Linked DNA regions of Homo sapiens. Each later gene encodes a partner of the first gene's protein in a complex. Each region holds a gene or a part of one and is shown on either strand. Other genes may lie near its edges.

Region 1 (16,835 bases):
AATAATGGGGAAGCAGGCGCCTTAGAAAACAAGGGCAAATGTAAAAAACCTCTAAGGCAAGAGTTCGGTGGGGAATCTGCGGGATTCTGTGTGCTGAAGCGCAGGAGGCACGAGTCACCTTTGCAGTCTCCGGTACCAAACGGGCAAGGGGTCCCCGTAAGACTGCTGCACCCTGGCCGAAGGTAGCGGGTGAAGCGCCTCGGCGTCTCTAGGCAACCGATCAGCCCGCCCACTCCGGGGTGACTTCCTCGTAATTGGCTCTCGAATCCACCAATGGGCGCACAGGGGGAGCTTCCCGCCACCTCTGGCGCCCGCTTTCAAACAGCCGTACTTTGCAACTGCAGGTGGACTTCTCAACCAAGCTTGAGGAAGGCGGAGACTTCTGCCTCCTCGCTCTGCCCTGAGCTGGCACGGCTCCGCCCACCGGGCGAGCTTCTAGTCGGCGATTGAAGGATGCGAGTGCTCCTTAAGGGCCTCCGCCCCGTGAGTTCGGTTGTGACTAGGAAGGAGCTAGTGGACTAGAGCCAGGGTAAGGGGATCTGCTAGAAGTTGGTCTTCCGCCAGGACTAGAGTTTCCTCGCGGTAACAGCCTCCGTGGCCTCCGGTAAGTTCTGATTCACGGGTGAGCTTGGACCTGGGGTTAGAGGAGTTGCGGGGTCCTCGGGATGCTGGCTGAGGGTTCCTGGGGGGGCTGACCTGCCCCCTCCCCAAATCCCGCGGTGGTGGACTGCCCGCATGTTGCGGGCTCAGCTTTTACCTTAACGTGTCATTTAGACCTCTTCATTCCTCCAATATCCTACTTAGAAGTGACATATGGGAAGCCCGCCTCGTTTCCAGGCTGCTGGGGTCGCCCTGAGACCCTACTCTGCGGACCCCGCCTTGGTCACCCTGGCGTCACGCCTGGCTCACAGTAGGTGCTCTGTGCACGTGTGTTGACCGAGTACAAGTGACGCTGGCACCCGAAGCCAGTAGCCCCGGGCATCCTGGGCCCCGTGCGGCTTTGGTCATGTTTGTAGTGCCGTAGCTGACGCCAAACAGTTCCTCAAGGTCATTCGCTCAGCCTGTGGATGCTTATTGTGTATTAGCATTACTCGCTCCGCCCTCTGGGCAACTTGAATCAATTTGTCCAAAGTGCTGTTATTAGCACTGATCACAAGATGTTGTGATCATTTGTTTATATGTCTATTTTCTTTCCCTTCATCGTGTCCTGTTAAACTTTGTAATCTTGAACAGTGCTTGGTAAATTGTCGAATGAATGAATAAGGTGTCTCCACCAGGTGTTGCAAGTCTAAACCGGGCTATGTGCTCTGGCTATTTCCATTCTAGAAGGCGAGTTATGTCAGCAAGTAAGTAGAATTTCCCAACTCCAAGTGCAGTTCTTAGAAACCCCTTTTGTGGGGGTTTATAACCCTTCCTATATCGTAGTCATGAACTTGAGTCTGATTTAAGCCTATTATCACCTTATACCTTCATAGTGCGTGACAATGAACATGCACTCCCTAGACAGGTGAATGCACTCAACTAAAGAGAAGCTGAAGTTGAAGCCATAAGAAAAGCATAAGAAATACAGTCTGAAAGTGCAAAGGAGTGGCCAGCTCCATGGGGGAACAGGCTTGGGAGGGCATCTTGAAGGAGGGTGGCATTTTTGTTCCATAGGAGGTTGCATTATTAGAAGTGACATTTCTCATAGGCTGCACATTCACCTTTTCTCAGATATGCGGAATCCTCTTTATTCCCTAAACCTCTTCGGTAGCTGGCAGACTCCTATTCATCAGTAATAATGTCATAATAGTAATAAAACTACAATGTATTGATTGGTACATAGTGCTAATTACTTTACATGTAGTATCTTGTGAATCCTCAGAATCAATCTTTGAAGTAGGTATTATTTTTACCCCCATTTCTTTAACGTAGAAGCAGAAACAGTTTGCTCAAGATTGCACTGCTGATAAATAGAAGAGCCAGAATTGAGCCCAGGTTGTCTGAATGAGTGCCCTCATTCTTAGAACCACTTATAGCCATATTGTGTCCTTTAAGATTTATTTCTAATCTAAAAGCTCTTTTTTTTCTGTAAAACTTCTCTAAACTATCCTTTCTTCTTAGGAAAAGTAATTTGTGCTTTGTACTTTCATCTACTACGGAATTTATTACAATATGTTATTGTAACTGTTTATATCAGTGGCTCTATCTAAGAGAGGGTGAGCAGAGACAGTGAGCTCCTCATGGCTGGTACCATGTCTTAGGTGCATCTAGGATATGATCTGGAACACAGTGGGTATTCAATAAAATTTTATTGAAGTAATGAATTCGTATAAGGTAACATGCCTATATCATATTCAGTCAACAAATATTTGTTATGTACCCACCATGTGCAAGCAGGCAGATACATTTTAATTCTGCCTTCAGGGTGCTTATAGTTTATTAGATGAAGCAAAAACAATGCTACTTTTGCTTTGTAATCTTTTGTCCAAATACCCATTGCTTTTGTTGCAAGGAGGGCAGAGAAAACAACCGGGGACAACAAAAGGAATGCTGGGTCAGAGCATCCATCTGAGTGTAACAACAAGACATACTTTTTATAGTCTTGTTAAGGGTTCAGAAAAAGTTATCTAGGAAGAAAGTCTACCAGACTGCTATTGAAGAAGAAAACCAAAACATACTGTATACTTAATCTGCATCTTGATTTCTCAAGTGGTCAGCCTTGAGTCAATAGATATAGAAAATTTTCAGTATTTTTACTAGTGGCATAGTATTGACAAATTAATTCAAAATAATTTTACTAGTGTAAATGTTAATTTTCAATATATTAATATTGATAGTTTTCAAGATGGTTTAGCAGTTGATATTTTCACCAGCAACTCATGAGCCATACAAAATACAAAATAGTCACCACTGGGTGATAACAAGTTTTTTTTTTGTTTGTTTGTTTTTTCAATCTAGTGGTTGAAAATGGCATATTGTTTAAATGACACTTCTTTGAAACATCACGAGCTTAAGCATCTTTTCAAACTAATTGATTTACACTTTTTAAAATAAATTGTCATGTCAGTCGCCCAATTTTATATTGGATTGTCTTTTTCTCATTTCTTTGTAATAATTTTATATTGGGACTTTGTCAGGTGCTTTGCAAATTTTTTTTATTCTTATTTTTCTTGACTTTGTTATTGATGTATTTTTTCATATATAATATTTGACTCGTTAATGATGTCTTTTGCCTTAAACAAAATTTTATTTTTTGTGGTTAGGTTTCCATCACATTTTTCTTTATGGCTTTTGGATTTACTATCTTGCTATTTTTTTTTTTTAAAGAAGTCTCTTTTGTTGTTCTGAATATTATACTAAAGTCTCTGGTAGCAGTGATAATGAGTGGTGATTAATAAGTTAAGGTATTAGCTTTTATTTTAAGTCTCATTTAAAATATGTATTACCTTTTTACTATATATATTTTTAACCACATTAAGTTGATCAGGTTTCCCTTTATGTCTGAAATCATTTCTTAAAGTCTTTTATAGTTTATAGTTCTGATAAGGAAAACTTATACCTTCTTCAGTGGGGGAGATTTTGGTCTTTTCAGGTATTTTTAGATGTCTTCTTTAATGACATGTTTTGAATTTAAAATAACATTAAAGATATATACTTTGATATTTTACATTCTCTTTAAAAACAAAACCCTAAGTATTCTCTATCTGAGAAAAAGTAGCTGTCTATTTAAAATATTAGTAGCTACATTTTTAGCAATAGGCTCTTATAAATCTTAATGTTCTTTTTCAATAATCAACATCAGTTGATGGCAGGTTAATAAAGGATGGGAACAAACCTCTCTTCTCTAACTTAATGAAGGAGAAAGTAACCCAAATTCCATATTTCGTCTTGTATTTATATTTGAATGAAAGAAAGGTAGAAGACACAGAATTCAGAAACAGAAAGGATTTTTTCTGCCTGGAGGATTCAGGAATTTCTTTAAGGTCCAGCTTAATTTCATCTCTTTTTTTTTTTTTTTTTTGAGACGGAGTCTCGCTCTGTCGCCCAGGCCGGACTGCGGACTGCAGTGGCGCAATCTCGGCTCACTGCAAGCTCCGCTTCCCGGGTTCACGCCCTTCTCCTTCCTCAGCCTCCCGAGTAGCTGGGACTACAGGCATCTCTTTTAAGGACATAGGATTTAATTGGGCTAGTATTTTCAATATATATAGTGTTCTGTAGAATATTAAGTCTATTTGCATAGTGGAAAAAAATCTAGAGACATGAGATTGTGTGTTTTTCCCTCACCATTTCATGTTACAGGCTTTTTATCATATTCATATCTTCATCTTATGTTGACATACAAAAGGATTCTTATAGATAGATTTATTTTCCTCGATATGCATGTCTCTTCCCCCGTTTAGCCCTGTCACAAGGGTAGAAAGGAATAGGTGTGGTCTGAGAAGCAGAGGCTGGAGGGTTTTAAGTTGAGGTATAGTCTGAGTTGATATGAGTTTAAAGGGACGGGTTGGGTGTAGGGACCAGAGAGGAAGGGATTAGAAGGTAGACTGCAAATTAGAGGTTGGCCAAGAAACATAACTCAGTCTTTGAAAAACAAAAACTTGTCATAGGGGGATTTTTACCACTGAAGTTCATATGTATGTTAATCTTTAATACCATATTCATCTATTCTAGCTTGCATATTTTCTTTTCACACTTTAATATCTACAACATAGACTGCGTCCTAAAATTAATGTTATGTCATAATTTGATTGGCTACATCTCGTTCCTACTGCTACAAATGGAACTGCATCATAGAATCAAAGACATCTTAGATCTGATGAAATGGGATATTGTCTGCTCTAGAGCTATTGGCTTCCACAAAAGTTTGTGATATAGTTCGTATCTGTTAAGACGAGGGAGCTAAGTTCTCTATGGTAAAATGCATTTGGATTGCTGGGTCTCCATGCTTCTGATTTTACTTCCAATTTAATGACATTTTAGAGCTTGAAAGGTGTAGTGAATGAGTTGTGGCTCAGGCTCACATCCAAGTGCGTTTCATTGGCATGAACAACAGTGGACTGAATGGAGGGCAGTGTTAGGCCAGGTAATTGATGACACCTGCCTACTTTTTTGTTGTGATTGTTCAGAGCTTTGAAGTTCTGAGGAGTTTATGTATAGTGTCAGGATCCCTAAGTACAAGTTAAATCAGCAGCAGCTTTTTTGAATGTAAGTAGTTGAAAACCCATTTCCTGCTGCTGCTTCTGCCGCAGCAGTCACTGCTCCCCAGGGAACTCTTGCTGTTGCTTTTGGAATTGGAAGTCCACAGTGGTGGAGCTTCACAGCCTTCACTTCTGTTTTTCCCGAGTATATTGCCAGAACCTGATTTTATCAAGCTTAAGAGGAGGACATTTAAGACTTATATTTTGTTGTGCACTCTATGGCATTGACTGAATTGTAAATGGTTTCTGGGTAGTAGTCATTCACTCATGATTTAGGGGCCTTCTTCTTGTAAAGCATGATATTTGGATTTCTGATATTAAAAAAAAATGAAGCAATAGGGTACTGCCTGTGCCATGTTTAATATATCACATTTGAAGTTTTGTTTGAGCTTAAGATTTTTACATTTGGCACATTTCTAGTTTATTATTATTGTCATCTTATTTTTCATGTCGGCAAAAATCTTACTGTTTTATACTCTTCAGACCACTAGAAAGGTCTATTCATAGCTTTATTACCTATTTGCATGTTTTCTTTTCCATGAATTGCTGTCATATAGCTATTTTCGGTGAATCACCATTATTTTTATTGGCCATAACTGAGTTATACATATTTTCTCCCAGTCTGTTTCTGTCTTTTCACTTTGTGTATGTATGGCATCTCTTATGTAGTTTGTCCTGGGGAGATTTTATGTGGTGTCCAGAAACCAAACATCTTTCCCTTCCCACAGGAGGACCATGTCATTAGACTTTGGCAGTGTGGCACTACCAGTGCAAAATGAAGATGAAGAGTATGACGAAGAGGACTATGAAAGAGAGAAAGAGGTAAGTTGTTAAAAAAAAAAAAAAAAAGAGACACTAAACCCAATCTTTAACAAGTTTTATTTCTTGATCAAAATTGTATCATCTTGTGTCATTTTGAAGGGATTTGGATTTTTTAAAAAAAAAACAACCCTAAAATCTGCTTGCTATTTAGACTGAAAAGGTGAATAAGTGGAATGCTTCTGTTTTTGAGACAGGAATAAAACACAACTGTGAATAATACCATCAGATAAATGGTTAAATTTTTCTTTTCATTTAGGAGGTAATGGTTGGCTTTGGAAGTGGAAGGTTAGTTTCTAGGTGCTTGAAACATTGCCATGAACAAGTCTGACAAGGCTCTTTGCTTTGGGTAGTTTACATCCTAGTGGAGGCAGACAATAAACAAGTAAACAAGTGAGTAAAGTAATTTGAGTGAGTGATAATTTATCATTGATAAATGACAGGGAAACAAATTGGAGTGCTATGAAAGCAATTGATAGGGGATTGCTGTAGATGGGGTGGTGAGGGAGGGTCTGTGGGAGGAGGCAATATATGAGCTGAGACTTGACTCATGAGAAGGAACCAGCCATGCAGAAGCCTGAGGAAGAGCAGTCTACGCCAAAACACCAATGAGTGTAAGCTGGGAAGTTGGGAAGAGACCCCGTGTATGCCACAGATCATGTGGAGCGGCCAGAAGGCCATGGTATTGGGTATATATGAGCCAGTGTTGGGTGGTGGATGTGGGTGTCAGATCATGGAAAGCCATGATAAGGTGTTTGTATTTTATTCTAAGAACAATGGGAAGCCAGTGGAGGATTTTAAGCAGGGAAAATTGATATCATATTTTTGAAGATCTTTCAGAAGGCTGCATGGTGAATAGATTATAGAAGGAAAGGAATAAAAGGGAGAGACCATATTATTTATATGTAAAGTGTTTAGCAGAATTCTTGGCACATAGCAAATGTTCAGTAAATGGTGGCAATAGTAATAGCAGCAGTAATAGTGTTATTGGTGGAAGTCAATTTAGTTGTTTTGGTTGTTTTTAGTGTAAGTCAAATTTCTTGATTGTCTGTGATAAAAGGCTTCTTTTGTCCTGACGCTATTTTTTATATGACCCATTTTCTAACATGTAAAAAAGTCTTTTTTAATAGTTATTGTGGACCATGAGTATTAACAGGAAGCAAGGAATAGGGTCAGTTGACCATTGCTCATGTGGCTGGTGGTAGAATTAAGGCAGTGATAGAAAACTGGCAACTTGCTGGATTTGGTTCAGACAGGTATTGTTGGTTGCAGAGTGCTTTTAAAAAATTGAATCTGTATTTGAAGATGGGAAAATTTTATGCAGCACTGCAGAGTCTCTGGCTTATCTAAAAAACATCCAAAGCCCTGGCCACACCTGGCCTGTATTTGCACATGGCAGCAGGCGGGCTGGAACTGAGCAGTGGCTCTCCTTCCCCAGCTGGCCACAGTCCCCACTTCTCACACAGACATGGGCTTATGCACTCAGACCTGCCTGCTTCACTCTGGTAAATTCTCTGCCAGGGCCCTGAGGGCATTTGAGTTTATGACCCTGGTGAGGGTTTCCGGATTTTGGCAGGGCCCCTCACAACAATTGTGGCAAGGATGGGAATGAGGATTTTCTGTTACTTTGAACCTGCAGCATGAGGTATTCATGACTGGGCTTGGATAGTTGGCTGGGGTTTAGCCACTGGGATTCTTGAGAAGGTCAGTTTAAATAATCACTACTGTAAAGAAGAAAAAATATTTTGACAGGTGATTTTTCATTGAGAAATATATTAGAGAGATAGGTCTGCCAGTGTATTGTGTGGTTAAAATTTTAGAGGGGATACTAGTTAAGGAGGCAATTAATTCTAGATAATATAGAAAACAGCTATTTGGGATCACCTCTTTGATAGATTGTATGCTGGGATAGGGAATTTCAGGGGAAAAGTTGTTCTTGAAAGATCAAGTATCTAAGAATGAGTATTTCTAGCAGAGTGGAAGGATATATAGCTGAATTGACTCTAACATGATGATTATGGTTAAATTTGTAAAAAACTTCATGTTAATAAAAATATTTTTACTTTAAAAAATAATTGCTGCAAGGGAAAAAGTGAGATGAGAGGCTAGAGAGGTTCAAATTTTAGTAACAAACTTCGGAACTGTTCACAAATCTTCAGCTGTATGTATACTTTGTCACTACAAGTTAAAGTAATAAATTGGGTGGTCAAACCCAAGCTTGAATGCATATCTAGAAGGTTTTTTTTAACTGTCTCAGTCTTCCTGACCCAGCAATAGCCAAATGGTTCACAGCCTTAAGAGATTAAAGAAAAAAAGCTGTTTTATCCTGTCTACCTGGTTGGTAGCTTTGGGACTGTGGCTTTGGGATTGTGGCTAGGTTATAACTGTTAGCAGTGGGCTAATGCATATTGCTTTCTCTACTTAGTGAATCACTTTGTGTTCAAGTTGCTGATGTGGGAGGAATGCCTTTATCCCTGATGATGTGCTATAAGGCTTACCAGGCATACCACATCTGACTCATAGTCTACCCTGCTAAGGGTTTGTGAGAGCCTGTCTTGGTACATGGTTGGATAGTCCTGATTTTCACTGCCTGGGATGAAAGGCTAGTTGCTAATACAGCATGTTTTTCCAAGCTGTGTTTAATTTTGTTGTTTTGGTGCCAGTTGGGATTTTGTCCACATGGGCCCATATCCCAATGAATACACCATTCCAACCTTCATGCCATCCTAATGAGCAGCTTTACAATTATGATTTTGCTTTTTCCATTTCTATTCTCTCCATTGTTTGTATTGAAGGTCAAAGGGAGAAAGTGCCTTTAACATTCAGAAAAAGGAAAGGATTTAGTAAATACTTTATTCAATATTTAGAGGATATTTAGACCAGTGGATCTCAAGCCAGAGACCATCACAAATATACCCATATTTTGGGAAAAAAAAAAGCAAGAATTTTTTAGAAACGTCCTATAATGTATTTCTAAAGTGCTACAACTCTTAATGGTACATTAGTAAAAGTTGGCCCACTGTGAGTCAAGGCATAAAGGCATAGTAGAGAGGTACATAAACCACAGCTTCTCACAGTGTTTCAACTGAAACTCTCATCTCTTAAAAATAGTCGACAGAGCAGATTAGGGTGTAGATCAGTGAGAGTGATGACATCATAGAGATATGTATCGTCAGTTAATATCAATTAATTGTCACACATTACTTATGTTTCTCCTAACTAACTGGAGGGCATTATTTTCTGATTGTACCACTTGAGAGCTGCTGGTAATACTTGTCCTTCTTGCTAAGAAGGAGATATCATCCAAAGCAAACTTTTCTTTATAAAGCTGTCCCAGAAAATAATTCAGAAGCTCTTGTATTAACTCACTCATAATGTAACAATATGACTTTGCAAAAATGCTTTTCACCTAAGTCTCTATACTTGTGATTGCACAGTTGGATATTACAGAGATATAGTTCTTTTTTTTTTTTTTTGAGATGGAGTCTCGCTCTGTTGCCCATGCTGGAGTGCAATCACGGGATCTTGGCTGACGCTGCCTCCCGGGTTCAAGCGATTCTCCTGCCTCAGCCTCCCAAGTAGCTGGGATTAGAGGCATGCACCACCATGCCTGGCTAATTTTTTTTGTATTTTTAGTAGAGACAGGGTTTTGCCATGTTGGCCAGGCTGGTCTTGAACTCCTGACTTCAGGTGATCCAACTGCCTCGGCCTCCCAAAGTGCTGTGATTACAGGTGTGAGCCACTGCACCCAGCCCCAGATAAAGGTCTTTTTGTAATAGGCATGCTTGTTATAAGCCTCTCAGTTGTTGGTAAAGCCACAGCTTAAACAAGATTGCCATTTTGGACTCTCACAGTCAGCTGGAGTAGACATGTACTTTCTGCAGTGTCACCAGAAGTAGCTCTGTGATTGTTGTTGGTTCCAGATAGTAAAATTATCTATTTATGTGTGTATATATTCTGGAGCTGGTGATTTGGGGCAGAAATACTTGGTAATCTATGATATCAAGATAATATTTGCTGATGATGGATCATTTAGTGTTGACGGGTCATTTAGTGATGACATATTTGAAAATGATCTTGAGTAGAAAGGTAGATGGTTTAGGTAGCAGGTGGCAGATAGAAACTTGCACTTGGCAATACTGACTTGGTTTTTATAGTGGTACTTCTCTAATAGAATAATAAAGCTCCATTGAGCTCAGCATCATGTATTTTAGAGGCAAGGTTTCCATTGCATAGCCTTTCTTCCACTTTTTAACTGCCTTGTTTGATGTAATTGCGGAAGCATTTTGATATTTTGTTTCCACTAGAGGGAGTTGTAAAGCTAGTATTTGTTTACATTTAGCGTGTATCCATGAAAGCATTATTTAATAATTCATATTTGAAAATATCAGAATCTTTTTAGAAGCGTACTAAGAGGTCACCTGTTCAAAGGGAATATGACCGTTAGGTATTCCATTTGCTACCCTTTCTCTTGGGAGAAGATTATTGTATGGTTTGTAACTTGAGGCCTCTTGCCTTCATGAATATTGAGGATTATAGGCTCTGAAGATAATCTGTTTAGTTAATTTAAGTTGAAAATCCTAACAAAAGGTTTACATGTTCTCTGTTTTACATTTGCCCCTGAATGTAGGCTTTTGTATGTTCTACATGGGTTATTGCAAAGTGTTTTGTTAACAAAGTTCTTTGAGTAAAATGCTCTCTTTTTTTTTCTTTTTAAGAAAGAAACATGAAGTAGAAAAGGAGGGGAGTTTATAGAATGATTCTGAATTTATTTCAACTGAAGCCTTAGAGTGGCAAATTATCTTTCTTACAGGGAAGGTATCTGTTAAATTTTTAAACTCGGTTAATACACAGTAATATCCTGTTGAGATTGCTGCTTGCTGCCAAAAAGCAGTCTGATGAATTTTAAATTAATGAGTGGTATTAAATCTTATCACTTATAAGGATTGTTATTTCTGTTCTTGAATCTGTATTTGGAAGTTTGATAGATCTTTAATGAGGAAAATTTATAGTTTCTAAATTTCTGTATTTGGTAACATGCATATCTAGATACGGCAATTTTGTGTTTTATTGCACAAGGTTAGTGACCAAAGGGCAATTTGACAATGTATATGAGGAGGGCACACTTTGATCCTGGGAAATGGAAACACTGGAGGTGGAATTTTGTTCCTGAATGGCCTTATTTAGGAGGACTTCATTTAGCTTTTCTCTGCCCTGAAACTTACAGAAGCCAGGGAATATGACCCAGCTATGCCAAAGAACTTGATGGATAAATTTTTTGAAGATCAATTTTAAAATGTTAGCATATATGTAAAATATCTTGCAAGACTCTGAATACTATAGGGATGATTTTGCTAGTTGATGTTTATGTATGTATCCAGAAGCATTTTGATTAGCTGATTGCTTATACTCAAATTAATTTTTCTCTGTGGATGCCAATTTTGTGGTGTCACAAAGCTACAATAACTGCTGAATTATTATGTAGTTTTTTGTTTTTGTGCGGGGAAAACAATGTACTCTTCAGATGTCCCTGTCAAGGCGCCCCTGAATTTTAAGGCTATGTACTTGAACCTTACTGAAGGTTTACAAGAAAATATTCTTTCTGTTCAGGAGTCTTTACTTAATGTAAGTATAAAAGATTTGTTTTATTTTTCCTTGTGTAACATGTGGGGGTAGTCTTTTTCCTTAAAGCAGTGATGCATAATTCTAGACAACAAGTGGTGCTACTTTTAAAAGACCTCATAGATGCAACTTTTTTCTCTAGTGCATTTGTGTCTTTGTAGAATTGCTTTGCTACCTTTCATTTGAGGCATGTCTTGTACAAATATGTTGATGTGTTCTGTTTTGTTTTTCATGTTGTGTCTTTTGTATTTCTTGTTTTTTATATCTCTCAGTCAACTCTGATATGGCTAATTCTCAAAATGATTTTTCAAGTACCTTGCATGTGGAGATGAGCATTTAATGAGGGTCTTGTGTGTTAATGTTAGCGTTAAAAGATTTAAAGATGAAGATAACTTTTCATTGAAGAAAATATCTTTCTCTTGTTGCATCTTTAGATGACAAATGGATTGAGAAACCCTTTAAAAAAAACCCATCCAGTGAATATGAGAAATAAATATAGAGTGAGGAAGTATTCCCACCCACCTCCAACATACTCTGTTCCCATTCCCAAATTTTATTTCACCAAAGCTCAGTTAAGAATTTGGGGCATTCCTTTCAGACCTTCCATAAAATATATTTATTTAACTTTTACTATACATATTTTGTTTAAGAAACTTTTTTTTTTGGTAATTCTTAATATAATACTCAGATATGTTTTATGGACACATTCCATTTCTTTTGTACTAATGACAGGTAAAGTGGAAAAAAAATGCTATAGACCAGGGAGCATCTCATTTTTTTTTTCCTGAAAGGTTTTACAAAGTATTTAAAGTCTTTAAAATCCACTTGCACAATGTTATGGGGTTTGATTTATGTCCTTTGGAGGGATTTAATCAAGCTGTCAATTAAACTGGTGCTTAGTTTCTTAAAGAGAAGTAATTAGAAACAGTTTCCCTAAAAAGTATTTAGTAACATAATATTTGATCTTCTAATTGTTACATAATTTAAGAAATACATTATATTGGGATTTTTAGGGTAATATTATTATATTGGGTTTTGAAGAAAGACAATAGCAGACAGTTATTGAAATCCTAAATGTTATTGAATTATGTCTAACAGACTAGCTTATTTACTCATCTTTTTATCACATTTGAAATTTGAATGAATTAATTTTGTCTATCTAGTTTATATAATAAGCAGAATGCTAAAACTGATTTTTTTCTAGAAAATAATAGGAGAGAGAAATCAAACATTTAATGTCAGATGTAGTGTCATGCTTTTGCATGTGCTATCTATAGAAAACAGTCTTCCAACTCTTCTTTTACTCAGATGTTGTATGAGAGCAGGGTATTATGTATCTTTTCATCTTTGGAATTAGATGGCTCTCTACTAATTAGTGACTCCCACGGGTTTCTACATTATCAGAGCATTTAAGAGCTTCTAGGCCACCTGCTGCTGCTGCTGTTCTCATCACCTGGCCAGAGTGCATCTGGCTACTCACATTCCCTGTGGGATGCCTAATTGTCAATTCCCCAAGGTCTGATTACTGATAAAACAGGATTCTGAGACTTAGTCTGCCTGCCCTGTGATAACATAATGCATTGATTGTACCATTATTGTGACTTGCTGTGTTTCCATAAAAAAGTTTTTGAATTCTGCTCTATGTGTATTTAAATCTGAGATCTTCGTTAAAAAAAAAAAAAGCCTTCTGATATAAATCCTAAAATTATGCATTCCCTTTTCCCCAAGTGAAATGATGAATATAATTTGTGTGGAACTTAAGAAGTTAATTAAAGGAGGGAATTATGAACTTCTTTGACCTCTACAGTAAAAAACCACTCGTTCCAAGGCAGCTTTGGCTTGGTGTCTTGTGTTTAAGTTGGTATGATATTGATGCAGACCTTTTGACTCAGTTGCAGCAGTTACTCACAGACCTTCCCCATGACATGCTGGATGACGACCTCTCCTCTCCAGAGCTCCAGTATTCGGACTGCAGCGAGGATGGCACAGACGGACAGTAAGCACCTGAAGTCACTTTCACTTGTATATTGCAATTCTATAAGTCTTTTTCTTTTGATGAAGATTAATAATTACATGATTATAAAATTGTAAATTGATTCTTAAAATTTTGGGTGAAGATTGGAAGGAAAAAGGTTAAAATCTTGGGGTTCTTTGTGTTATCTATGTACAAATAAATGATACGCTTTAAATCGAAAGTATTCCTTTTTCTCGAGACCACATCATCCTGAGCAATTGGAGATGAGCTGGAATGAGCAAATGCTGCCCAAATCTCAAAGTGTAAATGTAAGTATCTGGTGTGATGATGACTTTGGTGAGGGTGGGACTGGATCTTCGTGCTTTTGTTTTACTCTTGTTATCTAATAGGGCTATAATGAAATTCAGAGTTTATATGCTGGAGAAAAATGTGGTAATGTCTGGGAAGAAAATAGAAGTAAAACTGAAGACCGACATCCTGTGTACCATCCTGAAGAAGGTGGAGATGAAGGTGGAAGTGGTTATAGTCCTCCAAGTAAATGTGAACAGACTGATTTATATCACCTTCCTGAAAACTTTAGGCCATATACCAATGGTCAGAAGCAGGAATTTAATAACCAAGCAACCAATGTAATTAAATTTTCAGATCCTCAATGGAACCATTTTCAGGTATTGTAAAAACTTGACTTTCAAGAACTTGTGTGTGTGCACACGCATTTGCGTGATGTTTGTGTGTGTTCAGGAAATGTATGTGAGTACAATGGTAAGATGATTTAACCACACGAAGTTCTGAGAGGGCACTTATTCAGGTTCATGGTGAATTAGTCATGGTATTTTCTGTTTACAGTCTAATACAATCATGATCTTAAGTCAGAAGTTTAAAATAGAGGCTCTTTGGACATAGTTGATTAAACATTAAAAGTTAAGTCTGCCAAAGAATAACTATCCTCATTTACTGCTGCTTCTACCACTGCACTGTGCTTCAATGAGAAGCTGTGTTCAGGTCTCTTATTGTAGTTTTTAAAGCAGTAATTCTGTGTAGGTGGCAACATTTAATTTCCTCAGTTTTCTTGCTCACCACCCATAACAAATTTTAGGTTAAACATGTCAAAGCTGATATCTCTATTGTATGGTGATATAACAGTAGACAGGATGAATGTGAAGGAAAAACCAAAAAACCTTGTTTTTCCTGGGGGGGAGTTTAATGAAGTAAGACCTCAGGATATAGTTAGTTGCTTCTTAGAATTTCTCAATGACAGCAAATACCTCAACAGCTAGTCTGTGTCACGCAATGACAGGATGGATTTTTTAGGCTGTTAAGTGGTTATTTTCTCTTAATTCTATCTCCGTAGAATGTTATTATTCATCCCATAAGAGTTACTATTTATTAGATATGAGGCACCGTGGTCCATGTTCATGTTATTGGATATGTGCATTTTTATATTCCCAAGATGTTGGCATAATCTAAATCATTTGTAATAAAATATTTCTATATAGTCTTATTGGAATTCTTGGGTTTTATTTATAAAATTGCCTTCATTGTGTGCTCAAAAGTAGAATTTAGGTGTCTATAAATTATGTATTGCAGACTTTCAATTAATAGTGTTAAATAACAATACGTGCTACTTTTGAGCAGATATATATATGTGTGTGTGTGTGTGTGTGTGTGTGTGTGTGTGTATATATATAAACAACTTTGAACTGTACCAAAAGTAAGTTCTGTAACGTAACATTAATTTAGGTGTCTAATTCAGATAATTTTGGAAGAAAAGGCCAAATCTTAATTGTCAGTTTCATTTGTTATCACAGGGTCCCAGTTGTCAAGGTTTGGAACCGTATAATAAAGTGACATATAAACCTTATCAGTCTTCTGCCCAGAATAATGGCTCACCAGCCCAGGAGATAACAGGAAGTGACACATTCGAAGGCCTGCAACAACAATTTTTAGGAGCTAATGAGAGTAGGTATCAAGTTTATATTTATTTTTTAATACCACATAATTGGGGAAATTTGAATACACAATGAATATTTGAGCACATTCAAGAATTATTATTTTTTAAGTATGACAATAGAATTGTGCTTGATATTTCAAAGAGCCCTTATTTTTAGAGATATATACTAGAGTATTTATGAATAAACTGACATGAAGTCTAGGATTTACTTTAAAATAATAGGCTGTTGAGGGGTAATGTTGGGTGGGAATATAGATGTGGCCAAATTGGCCATGAGTTCATAATTGTTGAATCTGGGAGATGGGTTCGTGGAGATTCATCATATTATTCTCTTTACTTTCTTATATATTTGAAATTTTTCGTAATGAAAAGTTAAAAGACATTTTTCCAACTTTATATTTCAGTCATTCTAGTTTGTTAAGCCTTTTCTCCTTATTTGTATAGTGTTAAGTATCCTCGCCTATCATACAGGATACCTGGACTTATTTGAAATTTAAAAAAATTTTAAAAGACTTTTTATGAACTTTATATATTTTTTTGACTGAAGCCTAATTTGGAAAATGAAACATAGTTTTCAATCTCAGATTTTTGACTATATAGAAGTGTAATTTAATACATCAGCACTATCATCAACTTTTTTCTTTTGATTTTACAGTTTTTAGTCAACTCTGATATAAATTAGTTTATATTCAGAATTACTTAGATATCAGGTTCAGTCATGTGGCATTTGCCAGTTTTTTTTGTATAGTATGTATATAAATATGAGAATGAAAAAAGTGCTTATAGGTACTAGAGAATTCTGAGATGAAATGCTAGTATCAAAAAACAAAAATCCCAAAATATAAACCCGTATAGTGACTGTACTGAATTACTCTTGTCATACTGTCTGGCACACTAAATAGCTTCTAATTATTGTGCATATTGAAGAGCCAGTGTAATTCTAGAGTGTGGCAGCAAGTGTTTTTGTTTTACTTTTTGTTTCCCTTTAATTAGTAGGGGAAAGGTCATACTGGATATTCTGGCTTACCTGGGCTATACCAAAGAGAAAACTGGACTTTTGGGTTGTGACTTCATATTGTTGCTTCCATCGTACACTGGGACGGCAGGGTAGTTACAGGGGGAGGCCCAGAATTCATTTTCCCCTGAAGGAGTCAACAGCAAATATGAGGATGGCCTCTCTTTGTTCTTAAGTTTTTTGTGGAATGAGGAAGTGGACAGTGTATATGACATAACTGGTTTTAGGTTGAGTAAATGAACCTCACAGCAGTGGCCTGACATCTCCTTAGTG
Region 2 (16,835 bases), on another chromosome or scaffold:
GGGTTTCCAGCTTTTGCCCATTCAGTATGATATTGGCTTTGGGTTTGTCATAGATGGCTCTTACTATTTTGAGGTGCGTTTCTTCAGTACCTAGTTTATTGAGAGTTTTTAACATGGAAGGGTGTTGAATTTTATCAAAAGCCTTTTCTGCATCTATTGAGATAATCATGTGGTTTTTGGCTTTAGTTCTGTTTATGTGATGAATCACATTTATTGATTTGTGTCTGTCGAGCCAACCTTGCATCCTAGGGATGAAGCCTACTTGACTGTGGTGGATAAGCTTTTTGATGTGCTGCTGGATTTGATTTGCCATTATTTTGTTGAGGATTTCTGCATCAATGTTCATCAATGATATTGGCCTGAAGTTCTCTTTTTTTGTTGTGTCTCTGCCAGGTTTTGGTATCAGGTTGATGCACAACCCATAGAATGGGTTAGAGAGGAGTCCCTCTTCCTCAATTTTTTGGAATAGTTTTAGCAGGAATGGTACCAGCTCTTCTTTCTACATCTGGTAGAATTCAGCTGTGAATCCATCTGACCCTGGGCTTTTTTTGGTTGGTAAGCTATTTATTACTGATTCAATTTCAGAACTTGTTATTGGTCTGTTCAGGGGTTCAGTTTCTTCCTGGTTCAGTCTTCGGATGGTGTATGTGTCCACGAATTTATCCATTTCTTCTAGATTTTCTAGTTTATGTACATAGAGGTGTTTATAGTATTCTCTGACGTTTGTTTGTATTTCTGTGGGGTTAGGGGTGATATCTTCCTTATCATTTCTGATTGTGTCTATTTGAGTCTCCTCTCTTCTTTATTAGTCTAGCTGGTGGTCTGTTTTAATTTTTTCAAGAAATCAGCTTCTAGATTTGTTGATCTTTTTAATGTTTTTTCATGTCTCAGTCTCCTTCAACTTAGCTCTGATTTTGGTTATTTCTCATCTTCTGCTATGTATGTCACTGCATGTGAGATGGGTCTCTTGAAGACAGCATACCAATGGGTCTTGATTCTTTATCCAGCTTGCCATTCTGTGCCTTTTAATTGGGGCATTTAGCTCATTTGCATTCAAGGTTAGTATTGATATGTATGGATTTGATTCTCTCATGATGATGTTAGCTGGTTATTTTGCAGTTTTTTGTGTGGTTGCTTTATAGTATCACTGGTCTGTGTACTTTAGTCTGTTTTTGTAGTGGCTGTTAATGCTCTTTGCTTTCCATATGTGGTGCTTCCTTCAGAGCTTAGTTTGGCCAGATAATGAAATTCTGGGTTGAAATTTCTTTTCTTTAAGAATGTTGAATATGCCTTCAATCTGTTCTGGCTTGTAGGGTTTCTGCCAAGAGGTCTACCATTAGTCTGATATTCCCTTTATAGGTGACCTGATCTTTCTCTCTGGCTGCCGTTAACATTTTTTTCCTTAGTTTCAACCTTGGAGAATTTGATGATTATGTGTCCTGGGAATGATCTTGTGAAGTATCTTACTGGGGTTCTCTGCATTTCCTGAATTTGAATTTTGGCCTCTCTAGCTAGGTTGGGAAAGTTCTTATGGATGATATCCTGAAATATGTTTTCCAGATTGGTTCCATTCTCCCCATCTCTTTCAGGGACACCAATGAGTTGTAGATGTGGCATCTTTACATAATCCCATATATCTTGGGGGTTTTATTCATTCCTTTTCATTCTTTTTTTCTCTATTCTTGCCTGTCTTATTTCAGAGAGCCAGTCTTCAAGCTCTGAGATTCTTTCCTCTGCTTGGTCTATTTTGCTATTAATACTTGTGATTGCATTATAAAATTCTTGTGGCATGTTTTTCAGCTCTATCAGGTTGGTCATATTCCTTTCTATACTGTCTATTTTGTCTGTCAGTGACTGTCTTATTTCAGAAAGCCAGTCTTCAGGCTCTGAGATTTCTTTCCCCTGCTTGGTCTGTTTTGCTATTATTACTTGTGATTTCATTATGAAATTCTTGTAGTGTGCTTTTCAGCTCTATCAGGTTGCTTACATTCTTCTCTATACTGCCGATTTTGTCTGTCAGTTCCTGCATTGTTTTATCATGATTCTTAGCTTCCTTGGACTGGGTTTCAGTATACTCCTGTAGCTCAGTGTTCTTTGTTCCTATCCATGCTCTGAATTATATTTCTGTCATTTCAGCCATCTTAGCCCAGTTCTGAACCCTTACTGGAGAAGTGATATGGTTGTTTGGAGGAAGGAAGATACTCTGGCTTTTTGAGTTCTTGGAGTTCTTGCACTATTTCTTTCTCATCTTTGTGGGCTTACATTCCTTCAATCTTTGAAGTTGCTGACCCTTGGATGAGGTTTTTTTTTTTCCTTTTACCATATTTGATGACCTTGAGAGTTTTATTGTAGTATAAGGTGGATTCAGCCAACTGGCTTTGTTTCTGGAAGATTTTCGGTGGCCATTGCTCAGCCCCCAACTCCTAGACTGTGTGCTCTAACTCTGGGGGGGCTCGTATTGGGCCCCAACTTTTTTCTCTGGCTCCTTGAAGTTAGGAATCCACTGCATTGGGGGGTCAGAGTGCTCCCAGACCACTAGTCACTACACCACAATGGGTGGTGGCAGCCAAAGCATTTCATAGTGTGGTGACAGTGGGATTCATCCTTGTTTACATGTGCCAGCAGCAGTGGTAGCAGCAGTGCAGTGGGGGACACACTTGTCAGCTATGCCAGGGTGCTGGTGGGTGCCAGGGTGCCTGCCTCCCTGAGAGCATTCACCACAGTGGAGGAGGCAACACAGCTGGGAGGTGAGCGGGGACCCCTGCTGGCGACTGTGCACAGTGGCACTGGTGGTGGTGTTGGCTTGGGGGCAGGGCGCTGGCAGTTGCAGGTCTGTGTGCCTTCTCTGTGTACTGCAAACAGGAGTGGTTGCTCCATGCAGGGGAGGATCTGTTATTCTCTGTGCCTAGTTTCACTCCTGCGGCAGTGTTGGTGCAAGGAAGGGGCACTGGTGGAGGCAGGGCTGGCTGGTTTGGTGCCCACCAAGGTTCTGTCTGCAGTGGTGGTCAGTGGGGACATGGGAAATGAACTGCACTCCCGCCACAGCAGTGTCAAGGTGGATACATGTACACTTGCCTGCTGGTGGGGCAAGAAAAGCAAAACCTGCCGGCATAGGCACATGCCAGCAAAGCCATGTGGGGAGTTGCTATGGGCCTAGGGAAGCTGCAGTATGGGGACTGAATGTACAGGCTGGTGCATAGCCATGGGGGCCACTCTGCTGGAGCTCTCTGCTGGTCAGGCATAGTCTGCCAGCACAGAAGCTATGATGCAGTCCCCCAGGCCACCCAAGGCTGCCCTGTAAGCATGTGTGGCCAGGCTGGGGCCCTGGGAGAGGCCAGCAGGCCAAGGGGTGGTCAGATGAGACCGGCCCCATATGATGGACAAGACTACCCTGCAGAGTTCGGGTCCAACAGTTGCCTTAGAGCTAAAGTCTCCTATGGGTGCCAGTTAAGCCTAAGGGGATGGCTATCCCTGGCCATGCCCCACCACAGATTCTCTCACACCAAACCCTCTGGGCTCCATATCAGCTGGCTTGCTGCCCCTATCACTTCTCTAAGTGGCTCACCCTGTCAACTTGAGTGTTCATGGTGGGCGAGAGGTTCCAGAGGCCCGTGGCAAGAGTGGGTTGCTCCTTGCTAGTTCAGCTCACTTGTTTTTCCAGAGCTGTTTGGGCCAGGAATGAGTCCAGGTGCGTAGTCGCCTCATGTATGGTTCCCAGCTTCCTCCCCCTTCAGCCCAGCTTCTGTGTCTTCCCTCCATCCACTCTTCAGTGACCCCCTCTGAAGATCTGTTAGGAGCACACCAGTTGTCTCAGTCCCTCATTGGCAGCTTTTCCTCCTGGCTGTGTCTAGTCAGCCATCTTGCCCTCCCCCTGGTTTTTTTCTCCCCCGTTCTTTGTCTTCAATTTTTAAAAACCTTGGTCAAAGAACTCTTTAGGCTAAGTTTGAGAACTCCGTAGTCAGCTTCCATGCTGTTAGCAGATCTTATGAAATCATTTAAAGTTTTTATAATTCTGCAGGTGGGTCTTGTCTAACATGTGATAGAGGGCCAAAAGGCCACACTACTGAAAGCTTAAGGAGGGGTGTGTGTGTGTGTGCGTGTGTGTGTGTGTGTGTGTGTGTGGTGTTTTGAGGGTTGCCTTTTCTCTTGGTTGTGGTATGTTAGGAGTAATGGCTGTTACATACTGATGTGCTTGATGTGCTTTGTCTTTACGGGTTATAGCAGTGTAGACATGAGTCTCCTTTTGGGATAATCTGTTTCCCTTTTTTCTTCTGTCTTTGCTAAAAGCTATTGCTCATTTCTGCTGAGCATTGCAGTTACCCCTTCTACCTACCATACTTTCTAATTTTGGATCTTCTGGTGGATTGTGGGCTAGGAAATACGAATAGTTAAGACTCTTCAACTTGTTTTAATCAAACAGATGAGTCCTCATGATCTTTATCAAAGCAAAGTAGGTGGGCTTAGGGTCAGCCTCTTTTCTTTTCTTTTTTAAAATGTTCTTTTCTTGCTAATAAAAGCAGTAGCCATTGGAGAAAATTTAGAAAAGACCAACTATGAAGCAAAACATAATCATAATACCTTGAATCAGAGTTAATCTGTATTAACATTTGGTGTATTTCCTTTAAGCTATGTAAGTAGACTTCAGTAAAAATCCTTCACAAAATTGGGATTTTAGTATAGTATACTTTTTATATCGATATGTCTTTTAAATGGTAAGCATTTTTCATGTTAACTATTTTAATACAGCTTAATGTTTGCATATTTTATTATGTACATTCATTCATTATATTCATTCACAGTTTATTTATAAACATACAGATTTTTTCCAATTTGTCCAGTTTTTATAAAAGAACAAATCCCCATTGACTTTTTTTTTTTTTTTTTTTGAGACTGAGTCTCACTCTGTTGCCCAGGCTGGAGTGCAGTGGTGCCATCTCAGCTCAGTGCAACCTCCACCTCCTGGGTTCAAGCGATTCTTGTGCCACAGCCTCCTGAGTGGCTGGGATTACAGGCACCTGCCACCAGGTCTAACTAATTTTTGTATTTTTGGTAGAGATGAGGTTTTGTCGTGTTGGCCAGGCTGGTCTCAAACTCCTGAACTCAAGTGATCCGCCTGCCTTGGCCTCCCAAAGTGCTGTGACTACAGGTGTGAGCCACCGCACCCGGCCCCAACAAATTCTTAACATCTACATTTATTTTCTTCTTTTCCTTTTTTGTAGAGAAAGGGTCTCACCATGTTGCCCAGGCTGGTCTTAAACTCCTGGGCTCAAGCCATCCTCCTGCCTCTGCCTCCTAAAGTGCTGAGATTACAGGTGTGAGCCACTCTACCTGGCTCTACATTTATTTTTTTTACATGGATTTCTAAAAGTAGTGTTTACCAAGTCAAGGTTAAGAAATTTTTTTTTTTTTTTTTTTTTTTTAGACGGGGTCTTGCTCTGTCGCCCAGGCTGGAGTGCAGTGGCACGATCTGGGCTCACTGCAAGCTCCGTCCTCTGGGTTCACACCATTCTCCTGCCTTGGCCTCCCGAGTAGCTGGGACTACAGGCACCCGCCACCACACCTGGCTAATTTTTTGTATTTTTAGTAGAGATGGGGTTTCACCGTGTGAGCCAGGATGGTCTTGAGCTCCTGACCTCGTGATCCGCCTGCCTCAGCCTCCCAAAGTGCTGGGATTACAGGCATGAGCCACCGCGCCCAACAAGGTTAAGAATATTTATAAGTGTTTTAATATCGACTCCCACATTGCTTTCTGGAAAAGTCATGTGCTTTGTATTTCAGCACTTTATGGGTCTTTGATTCCAGATAACTTACCCGCACAAGTTTCGTTTTATAAGATCTTTGCTAATTTGATAGATATAAAATGCCATTGGATGTTTTCCTCTGATTGCTAGTGAAATTAAGCCTTTTTTCATGTTTATTGGACATTTATATTTTTGTGGGAATCATTCTTGTCCTTGAGTTATTTTTCTGTTGAGAGCTTAATACTTTTTACAAATTTGTAAGTCTTTTGTGTACTAAAAGTTAAAAGCCCTTTGATTTTTTTGTAAATATTTTTCTCAATTTATTTACCTTTTAATTTTGTTAATTGGATTTTTTAAAAATAGAAGTTTTACATGGTTAAATTTATCATTTTAAAATTACTTTTTCATTAGTTTTAAGCTCAGAAAATTTCCTTTCATCCAGAAATTCAGTTACATCATTCACTTACATCTTTTTTTAAAACTAGACTTTTCCATTTTATTGGCTGTATTTACCCATTCTTCCAGTTTGAACTTTAGAATGACTTTTTCAAGTTTCTTACAAAAATAAATTCCACTATAATTTTTTATTGGAATTGCATTTAGTCCTCATTCTTATAAGTAGCTTATTTCTAGTACTTTAAAAAAATTTACTGTTGTAGATTGTGATTGTTTACTCCCTTGTGTTCCCTGTTTTCCCTCTCCCTCCCTACTTACCAGTAGATGAAATTCTAGCTGGTTATTAAAAGAAATACTGCTGGATACTTGTGGAGGTGAAGGCTTGGCAGAAAATAGGTGTCACTGGTATCAAATCATTGAAAAGTGGGTTAGGATAACTTCCTTACCATGGTTGGTGGAACTCGTTTCTCTGGAGTTGGGTGAATGGTAAAGCAGGCACAAACCTCCTTTTGTTTTCCTGTCTGACGTTACTATTCTGTACTTTATTGTAGAGAAATTATTCCTAAGGTCTTCTAGATTTTTTATGAAGTATTGTTGGTTTCCAGGACTCTCAACACTTTATATTTCTTATTTTCATGAGTTTTTTTGATGAAAAGGGTTGAGTAGGATAATCAGACAGAGAGACACAGTTTCGGCCGGGCGCGATGGCTCACGCCTGTAATCCCAGCACCTTGGGAGGCTGAGACAGGTGGATCACGAGGTCAGGAGTTCAAGACCAGCCTGGCCAAGATGGGGAAACCCTGTCTCTACTAAAAATATAAAAATTCGCCAGGTGTGGTGGCATGCGCCTGTAATCCCAGCTACTTGGGAGACCGAGGCAGACAATTGTTTAAACTTGGGAGGCAGAGGTTGCAGTGAGCCAAGATTGCACCACTGCACTCCAGCCTGGGCGAGAGTGAGACTCCCATCTCAAAAAGAAAAAAAGAAAAAGAGAGAGAGTCTTCATCTAAACCTAGAAATTCTAAAAACTAGCTGTTTGTTCACTATTTTTTGGCAGTGTAAAGAATTCTTAAATAACTAGGTATTTGACTTCCTAAGAAGTGGGGTATCACCATATATATGCATTTGAGAACTTGAATTTACAAATAAATACAGAGATTATTTTCTATTTTTATATCTCAGGGATGTTATTTCAATGCTAATAGTGAAAAATACTACCACCTTTCTGCTTTTAGGTTGGAATGTTGCATCAGCAGGTAGAAGAACATGAAAAAATCAAGCAAGAGATGACCATGGAATATAAGCAGGAGTTGAAGAAACTACATGAAGAAGTGAGATTTTAGTTTTGTTAAATGTTGTGTGTGTAGTTCTCTCTCTTTCACCCTTGAGAACTTTGTTAATGAAAGCCAGTTTCTACTTTGTAAAGTGGGAAATACATACTCCATCAAAGATACAGGAGTGGGAATCCATTTCTCTGTTCTTTAATCCAGGTAAAGAGGTTTGCCTAACTGTAGGTTTGATACTACCTAGAAGAGATGCTAAAATATGTTTCTTGGTTGAGTACCTGAAAGAAATAGAGCTGTTTTTATGTAATACTGTGAAATACTTGATACCAAAAATTACATTTAATATTTTAATTTTTATCAGTTACTAGATTATAAATAATGGAGGATCCAAAGATTTAAGAAACATTTTGGGATAAATAAGACAAGTAAGAAAATTCTGTCCATTAACTCAATTTTATTCTTCAGATTTGGAAAAAACTGCTTTTATTCTGATTTAATTGCAAAGTACTCTTCTCCTGCATCCTGAATATCAGTGCCCTGCAAGAGCATGGCTTGAGAATCACAGACCTAGAGGAAAGAAAAAGAGTTTTTATTTGCTGCTTTATTGTGGGGCTGGGTGGTAGGGTCTTTAAGTGCAGGGCTATTGTAATACAAAACTTTTGTTTAAAATTTTTTTTAAAATTTTTTCTTTGAATATATTTCTTTAGTAGTGTTTGTTTTACATATTTAATTTTTAGTTTCCTTTTGTGTTTTAGTTTGGAAATCTAACATGTTCTCAGTAGTACTGGTTAGCACTGCTCTTGTTTTCATAATACCAATTTGTCTCACCACTACTTCTTACAAATTCTTAAACTTTAAATATAGAAATAACTGTTTCTACAGTTATGCATACTGAAGAGAAGCTATGAAAAGCTTCAGAAAAAGCAAATGAGGGAATTCAGAGGAAATACCAAAAATCACAGGGAAGATCGGTCTGAAATTGAGAGGTTAACTGCAAAAATAGAGGTATGTTCATAGTAATAATTTGTTCATAGTGATTGTCAGCCTTCACGTAGGAAAATGCGGTTTCTAATGGCACTATTTTCTGGAACCAATTTTCTACTATCTTAAGGACTGCCACTAAGCTATTTCAGAGGTGAGAGGGTGATCCACCATACATCCTATCATCATCTAGTTCCCTGGGTTAACGGGGTTACTGGCCATCAGTAATTCTCAACAGGGCAGTACCACCCTTAGGGAGCATTTGCAAATGTACGGAGACATATTTTTTTGGTTGTCAAAATGACTGAGCTTAATAAAACTGGCATTTAGGGGACAGGGACCAGGGATACTAAACATGCCTAAGAGTGTTCCACACAGGAAGGATTATTGTACCTCAAATGCCAGTAACTCTCCAATTGGGAAACATGACCACTAGTTATAGGCAGTCCTCTATGGACATTGTTCTTGTCTTATATATCATTGTATCTCAAGCACCTAATAAAGTGGGGGCTTAGTAAATGTGGAAAGTACATGGCACTTTTCGTACAAAGTAATCTCTGTATCAGATTATTCTCAATTCCCATTTAGATGTAGTAAGGCATTCACTTCCTTCTCTGCTGACTTTGTTTTTATTAAGACTGAATAACTCCATGATTATTGTATATATTGAGAACTTAAGGGGAGCTGGTGAGCTAATAGTACCAAGAGTAGATGAAGGAAGAGCACAAGGCTGTCATTCTCTTCGTCTGTCCTTGCCATTAGTTCTTCACTGGACATAAGAATTCCCAGGGTGCTTTTAGGCTCTCAGAAATGCTGATCCAGCAGTATGGCATAGGACCTAGGGATCTGCATTGTATCCAGCTCCCCTAGCTTATTCTGATTTGAGAAACATTGTTCAACATCTTTGTGTGATCACTTACAAGTTTGTACTCTGGGTGACCTGTCACCCACAAATGCCAGTATATTATTATTACTTAAAATTATAATTTCTGTGTTTAATATTCCTTTATATCTCAATATTTTTTTACATTTGAAGAGCTTAGAATCAGAAGACTGCAGCTACTGCTTCCCTTCCACCCTTTTCGGCAATACCTTTTCCCCCCAAACCCTATATCCTTCTTGCTTCTCATTGCCACTTCCTGACTATTCTCTTTTCTTTCTACCTCAAAAACCCCATCTTTGATTTTCATGTTACCAGCCTATACTGCCAGCCAATGAACATAACAACCAAAATAGTCATCGTCTGACCTCTGGGTTATTTCCTTGGCTCATTGATTTCAGCACCCAGCTCACTGTCAATTCTCTCTGACATTACTCTTATCATAACTTTGAGGATCTTAGGATCTGGAGAGATGATGCTTATAATACTCTGACCTTACAGTTTCTTGGCTTTCTTTCCTCCATAGATAGTTTGATTATCTTTGTGTCTCATCTACTTATTCCCACTGCCATTCCTTAGCTCTTGTCATTACCAATATATGCCACCCCTCTAGAATCTCATTTTCAAGCATTCAATTATCAGACTACCAATCCCTATCTTTTCAGCTAACTCTCTCTAGTCCTTTGACTCTCAGTAATCATTAACCATCCCTTAAAATGATTAAATTCTGCCACCTTTTTACTGCTCCATTATCTACTTGGTGTTCTCACTTATCGGTCCTTAGCCAGCTTTTAAATTCTGTCATTACATTTTTTACTTTCCCCTTCATCTCCTGTGCTCCTCTCTTGCTTCCTCATATTTGCTTGGCAGAATCACAGTTCTGCTTAAGTCCACCTTTCTGCCCACTCTCTACCTGTCATGTATCGCTGAACGTGGCTAGAGAAAAACCTAATCATACTGTCTGTTCTCACTTTAAATTCATGGTCACTAACCTCAAATGGGTCCTAATGCTACCTGGAATCATACTGTATTTCCTCTCATCTCCTACTTTCCACAATGAGTATTTCAGACTTCTGCTTTTCTCCTCAAACTCTCAACACCTTTCCCCACATCCTCACCTTTGGGTTATATCTTCCTTTCTGTTTATAGACTTCCAACTCTTGTGTCCACCCACCTATCTGCATCTGTGCCCATGTACCCTGCCTTCCTTCCTGGAGGAACTACGCATGCCCTCCCCCTTTTCTACCCAAGGCATTACCTTAGCAGTTCACCTTCTCTTTTCTGCACCCTTAATTTTTTTTCTCTACTGGATATTTTTTACCAGCATCCAAATTTCCCTCCTCTTAAATATCCTCTCTTGACCCGTCTCTTCCTCCTCTGCCCCATTTTATTTCTTCCATTTTATAACTAAAAAATTACTTCAGTCATCTATACTTGTCTCCAGTTCCTCTTGTCTCATTGTTCTTGTACCCACTCAATAAGGCTTTTGTCCCCTCACACTGCAGAAGCTGTTCACATAGAGGTCACCAGTGACTTCCACATTCCCAAAGCCTGTGGGCTGGTCCTTATCTTCCTCATCCTACCTACAGCTTTGTAGGAGAGCTGGTCTCTCCCAACTCCTTAACCACTTTCTTGACTTGGCTTGAGAAAAACCACATTTCTCTCATTTTTTCCTTGTTCATCACTCCTCAGTCTCCATTATTCCTTAACCACCTAGGGTCATGTCATTGGACCTTTCCTTTCCTTTTTTTTTTTCCTATCTACGCTCACTCCCCTATTGATCCCATTGAATTTCATAGCTTTAACACTGTGTATATGCTGACAATTCCTAAATTTATATATCTAGCCAAGACCTCGCCTCTTCATGACAGAATAACTTTCAACTGCCTGTTTCCTATCTCCACTATGATGTCTAAAATGTGTCAAACTTAACATGTCCAAGCTAAAGGTCCTGTCTTTCTCTTCCTCATCTCCCCAACACTGATTCATGTTTTAGTTGATAACAACTCAATTTGCTCAACCTAAAACCTCGGAGTCATCCTAGACTTCTCTTTTCTCAGCATGATAGCCAGAATGATTCTGCTGTAATGTAAGTCAAATTATATCACTTCCTATACAAAAACCTTCCAGCAGCTTCTCTTAAAAATCTGTTATCCTAATGGCCTACGTGGTCTCATTCCCAGTTATCTCTCTTACCTTGTCTTCTCCTACTTTCCCTTTCATTCACTTTATTCCAGCCACACCAATTTCCTTTCTCACCCTTAAACACACCAGGATGCTCTTATTTCAAGGCTATTCTTTCCACCCAGAATATTGTAACTTCACCCTCATCTCCCTAGGTGTTTACTTAAATGTTTTTCACTCAGTCTGGCCATCCCTTTTAAAAATTACAACCCCAACTGTGAAGACTTCATGCTCTGTTTTCTCCAAAACGTGTATTACCATCTGCTATACCATACAAGAAATGTGTCATCTGTTGCCCCCAGTTGAGTAGGACTAGGGTTTTTGTTTGTTTTGTTAAGTATTGTATCCCTGACTCCTAAAGCAGTACCTGGCATATATAGTAGAATGATTGAATGAATGAATGAATATCAGAAATTTGGTTAACAACACTTATCTTAAGGAGCCTGAGACTTCTGGAGTTGAGGGTCCTGGAAGACAGTGATAGAAAGATTGAGTTTCCTTTCCCTTTGATTTGCCCCATTTTCATAAATATTGAAATCACTTTCTTGATCATGCAATTTGATGTTACTATTGATCCATCATTAATTTTGAACTGTTTGGCTTTGGGTTACAAATATTTGTTAAAATTTGGTACAGATTTTCTTTGTTATTCAAACTTTTGCAGTTCCTCTGTTGAGATAATACAAATTTGGATATCAAAGGATATTGTGTTATCTGAATCTACTTGGTTCCTTAGTTTTAGATACTGGGAAGTAAGATTTGGGTTACCAAGGGACTTATCTGAAAATTTAATCTGTTCAATTCCTGGGTCTGGATATCAAGAATTTGGATAGCGAGGGATATCTGTAATCATACTTTAAAATTTTAGTTATCTTAGCATCAGTTTTCTGAAAATTCACTAGAAAATTATAACAACCCTTAGGTGGCAGCAAATCAGTGAAAAACATCTGAATCCAGTGCTTAACATCTGCGTGTCATACTCCTCACCATCAGGGTGTTAAATTTAGAAAGACAGATATCCAGAGGCACAGTATGTGAGGAAGTTAGTATTACTCTCCAGCTCTGTTAGCTGAGTGAGTAATGGGGCTCCCGCTGTGGAGAAAGGTGCAAGCGTACCCAGGGACATGGGGAGAAATTAAAGTTAAAGGGAGTCTGGGAAGTAGTGACAGTGAGGAGAAGCACTCAGAAATTAAGTACTCTAATTGCCTCCTCAGGAATTCCGTCAGAAATCGCTGGACTGGGAGAAGCAACGCTTGATTTATCAGCAACAGGTATCTTCACTGGAGGCACAAAGGAAGGCTCTGGCTGAACAATCAGAGATAATTCAGGTAGGCCTAAGACTTTTTAAAATAATGAGAAGCAGATAGGTTTTGATCAAGTTTGAACTACCTTAATGCAGTGTCCTAGTACCATTTAGCCTCTTTCAGCTTCTCTCCACGAACCCTGCTCTCTTGTTTAGGAAGCCTCTCCTCAGCATCTAGACTCAGCTCCTTCTTCCCGCCTGCCCTCACACATGCGTGCATTCACTCTCCTGTCCAGGCTCATGTCCTTGTGCCCGCTTGCTGCTTTGCCTCCTTGCTTGTTTCTGACTTGCTCACCCACTCTCTGTCATTGTCTTGCTTACTCAGGCTCACTCTATGCTTGCATCCATGTTCACTCTCCTCATCTTGGTCCCTAGCTTTGTCGCCCTCTCTTCCTCCCCTCTCTTTCTTCCCTACCACAGTCCCATTCCTCCCTCTGTCTCCTTTTCCATGTCTTTCTGTCTCTTGTTGGGTCTCTCAGCTCTACTATAGTCTGTGCCTTGCTCCATCCCTATGGTCACTGGGGTATCTTGGCCGAAGTGTCTCAGCTAGGGAGCTTCAGTTAGTCTGCCTATGCGGACAGATACGGAGAGAGTCACATGGCAATGGTGTGCACACCAACTAAAAGTGGTGTCTTTGTGGTAACAAAAACACTTATTTTAGAACATTGATAGAAACTTTTCTTGTAATGGCTTAAGCAAAACCAAAAAACAGACACCTACTTTAGGAATATGTCTTGTAAGAACATATTCAGCTCATTCCTTTTTCAGTTAGAATCAAGAACATAAAGGAAACTAAAAAAATTTGTGATCATCTGTTATGTGCTAGACATTGACCCAGTGCTTCTTGTATGTGTTCTCTGTTTAATATTATGATAATCTGTCAAGGTTGGTAGTTATCTTAGTTTTATAGAATGAGGGAACAGCCTGGGTAAGTTGAAATAGCTAGAAGGGAGGGTTTTTTTTTTTTTTTTTTTTGGCTTTTTGGGTTTTTAAAAATAATCTGCATTTATTTGCTATTTTAAGTCTCAATAATGCATTAACTTTTTGTTCGTCTCCCTGAAATATCAGCAGTCTGATAAACTACCGACAGTGGCTGTGGCTCTGCTGTGAGTGACTTCATTCAAAATGGTAGGAAAAGTCCACAACAATTGCAAGGAAGAAATTTATTTTCTAGGCCACAGCAAGCTGTGCAGCCAGACAGACCAGTGAAATCCTGAGATGTCTGGACCAGTTTTTTTGACTTGAATGCCAAAGCACCATAGAGACCTAATAAGAAATTGTGTGTGTGTGTATATATATATATATATATATGTATATATATATTTTTTTAACAACAAAAAATTTTTTTTGGTTTTCTTGAGATGAGGTCTTGCTGCATTGCTCAGGCTGATCTTGAATTCCTGGGCTCCAGCAATCCTTCCACCTTGGCCTCCTAAAGTGCTGGGATTACAGGTGTGAGCCACCACACTTGACCAAGATATTGTTATATTCTAGTTGTAGCCTTCAGATTGACAAAAAAGCAAATTGAGTCTTAATTTTTACAGTTCTCAATTATTTATCCATGGAGTATTATTGATTATAGATTCTCTCTTCAAATTACTGTTATCCTATTTCATATTACTGTTGTGATTATTGACTCTATGTAATTAAAACTTCATTATTAGTAAAAATGGGATTTTTACTTACTGTAATTCAGCTAGGGCTAGGGTAAGAAGCCTTTCAACAGCCAACATTTGTTTTTCCTACTAAGGGTGTTTGAATTAATTCTTCTGATAGTTTTGTTTAACCTAAAACTGTCTGATTGTTTAATAAAAATGTTACATATAAATGTATTTATCCTTCTCCCTTAGCAAACTAAATAAAATTAAATCTTTCAGTGATTCAGTATATACCAGTGCTGTATGATCATCATTTTTTTAAACATCTAAATAAACTTATCTATATCCATTAAGTAGCATTAATAGTTGTCATCATCTTGTCAATCTTTATTTTAATTATGGTAAAATACACATAAAATGTTCCACCTTAACCATTTTTAAATGTATAGTATAGTAATGTTAACTATATGTACACTGTTGTGCAACAGATCTCTAGAACTTTTTTATCTTGTCAAACTGAAACTCTATACCATTCCCTACTTCTTATTTTTGGGTGGAATATTACAGAGCAAATCATAGATATCATCTTATTTCCCAACAGGTAAGGACTTAAAAAATAACAATATATCAGTATCACATTAATAGAATAATAACTTCTTAATATAATTTAATATCCAGTCTGTTCACATTTCTCCAGTTGTCCAGAAAACTATCTTTTTACAATTGAATGTTTGAGTCAGAATCCAGTCAAGGTTGATGTATTGCATTTGGTTGAAAGGTGGGTCACCATTGAACAATGACAGTAGAAAACCTGGGAGGCTGAGTAAGTGGATATTAACCTACCCTCCATTAAAAAAAAATCTCTGTATAATTTTTTTCTTATATGTTTTTAACATCTAAAAGTATAATTCGGAAACAACTTCTCCTTCTTTGACATATGTTTGCTTGAATTCATTTCTTTTAATCAGCTATTAAAATTACATAATACATGCTTATTTTAGAAAAATGAGAAAATGCGGATAAAATGAGAAATAAATAAATCACCCATAATTCTACCGTTAAGAGATTTACGATGAATAAAATTTTGGTGTAAATTTCTTCTGACTTTGTGTATGCTTACATACAGTGTGCAGTACATTCATGTACTTTTGATAGGAAAAACCTATATGCACTGTGAATGGGAAAGGAGGGGTAGTTGCAAACTTTAAAAAGTCCTGAGAGTAGCAAAGTGTTGATAATTTTTGAAGCTGTGTGATAGGGGTTCATCATCTTACTCTCTCTATATTTGTGTATGCTTGAAATTTTCCATGAAACAATAACTTTAAAATATATAGAATGCTTACTAAGTGACAGGTACTATGCTAAGCACGTCACAGCTTTAAAATTTTTCCTTTTTAAATATGACATGTCAACAGATTTGTAGTCATAATGATTGTGTAGAATTCCCCCCTATCGTTAAATGTATAATGACATTTGTAACCAGTCCCTTATTGTAGAACATTTAGTTTTTTACTTTTCACTTTTGTAAATAGTGCTTAGATTAACATCCTTATATAAACATTTAGGAGTATTTATTTTCTTAGGAAATGGCCCTAGAATTGGATTTACTGTATCAGAGTACCTTCAAATATTTTAATATATATTGCCAAAGTTTTCTCCAATGATGGATTGATAGACTTTCTCTAGCAGTATGTGAGAATATCCATTTCCTCATACTTTCCCCACATTGAGCGCTATTATTTCTTTTGACTTTCCCCACTTTTAGGCTTGTCTTTGCCAATCTTATAGGTGAAAAAAAATGATACCATTGTTTTAATATACATTGTTTTAATATGAGTGAGGTTGAGGACTTTTTTCATCTGTTTATGGCCATCTTCATTTTTCATAAATTATTTGTGTCCTTTATTCACCTTTGTTTTAGGATTTTTTTTTTTTTTTTTTAAATCTTAATTTATTTTCTTTTTTGAGATGGAGCCTCGGTTGCCCAGCCTGGAGTACAGTGGCCTGATCTCGGCTGACTGCAACCTCTGCCTCCCTTCAAGCAGTTCTCCTGCCTCAGCCTCCTGAGTAGCTGGGATTACAGGTGCTCACCACCACGCTCAGCTAATTTTTGTATTTTCAGTAGAGACAGGGTTTCACCATGTTGGCCATGTTGGTCTTGAACTCCAGACCTCAAGTGATCTGCCCACCTTGGCCTCCCAAAGTGCTAGGATTACAGGCGTGAACCATCGCACCTGGCCGGATGTTTATATTTTACTATTCTGAAAGAGCTTTCCATACACTTAAGTATGAAATATAAGCCCTTTGCTATTATGTTACAGTTGCGTATGTGTACTCAATTTACCTTAATTTTTGCCCAGTATTTTTTATGGAAGTACAATTGTTTTATAAACAGTTAATTAGAATTGCTTAATTCTATCAATTTTTTGTTCAGCGTTTCTATCTTTGATATCATACTATAAAGTC

The links.
Region 2: the proteins of CEP152 (region 1) and CEP63 are in contact, whole or in part, in a crystal structure (PDB 6CSU), measured with the Homo sapiens proteins. Residues at the interface, in NP_001181927.1 of Homo sapiens: Gly1261, Ala1262, Glu1265, Leu1266, Gln1269, Tyr1270, Lys1272, Ala1273, Lys1276, Ile1277, Asp1280, Met1281, Tyr1284, Glu1287, Ser1288, Arg1291, Ala1292, Met1295, Ala1298, Arg1302; in NP_001340037.1 of Homo sapiens: Phe666, Glu669, Glu670, Arg673, Ile677, Arg680, Leu681, His684, Glu687, Leu688, Glu691, Ser692, Thr695, Phe699.

What each region holds. Positions count from the first base shown.
Region 1 is NC_000015.10:48,794,730-48,811,564, reverse strand, and holds the start of CEP152 (centrosomal protein of 152 kDa), read left to right. Parts: upstream 1-495; 5' UTR 496-604; exon of another isoform or gene 605-634; intron 635-757; exon of another isoform or gene 758-867; intron 868-970; exon of another isoform or gene 971-1,346; intron 1,347-5,908; 5' UTR 5,909-5,915; coding exon 5,916-6,002; intron 6,003-13,513; coding exon 13,514-13,617; intron 13,618-13,834; coding exon 13,835-13,904; intron 13,905-13,985; coding exon 13,986-14,264; intron 14,265-15,404; coding exon 15,405-15,555; intron 15,556-16,835. UniProt on the Homo sapiens protein: Necessary for centrosome duplication; the function also seems to involve CEP63, CDK5RAP2 and WDR62 through a stepwise assembled complex at the centrosome that recruits CDK2 required for centriole duplication.
Region 2 is NC_000003.12:134,524,473-134,541,307, forward strand, and holds part of CEP63 (centrosomal protein of 63 kDa), read left to right. Parts: intron 1-7,372; coding exon 7,373-7,468; intron 7,469-8,287; exon of another isoform or gene 8,288-8,305; coding exon 8,306-8,428; intron 8,429-12,682; coding exon 12,683-12,796; intron 12,797-16,835. UniProt on the Homo sapiens protein: Required for normal spindle assembly.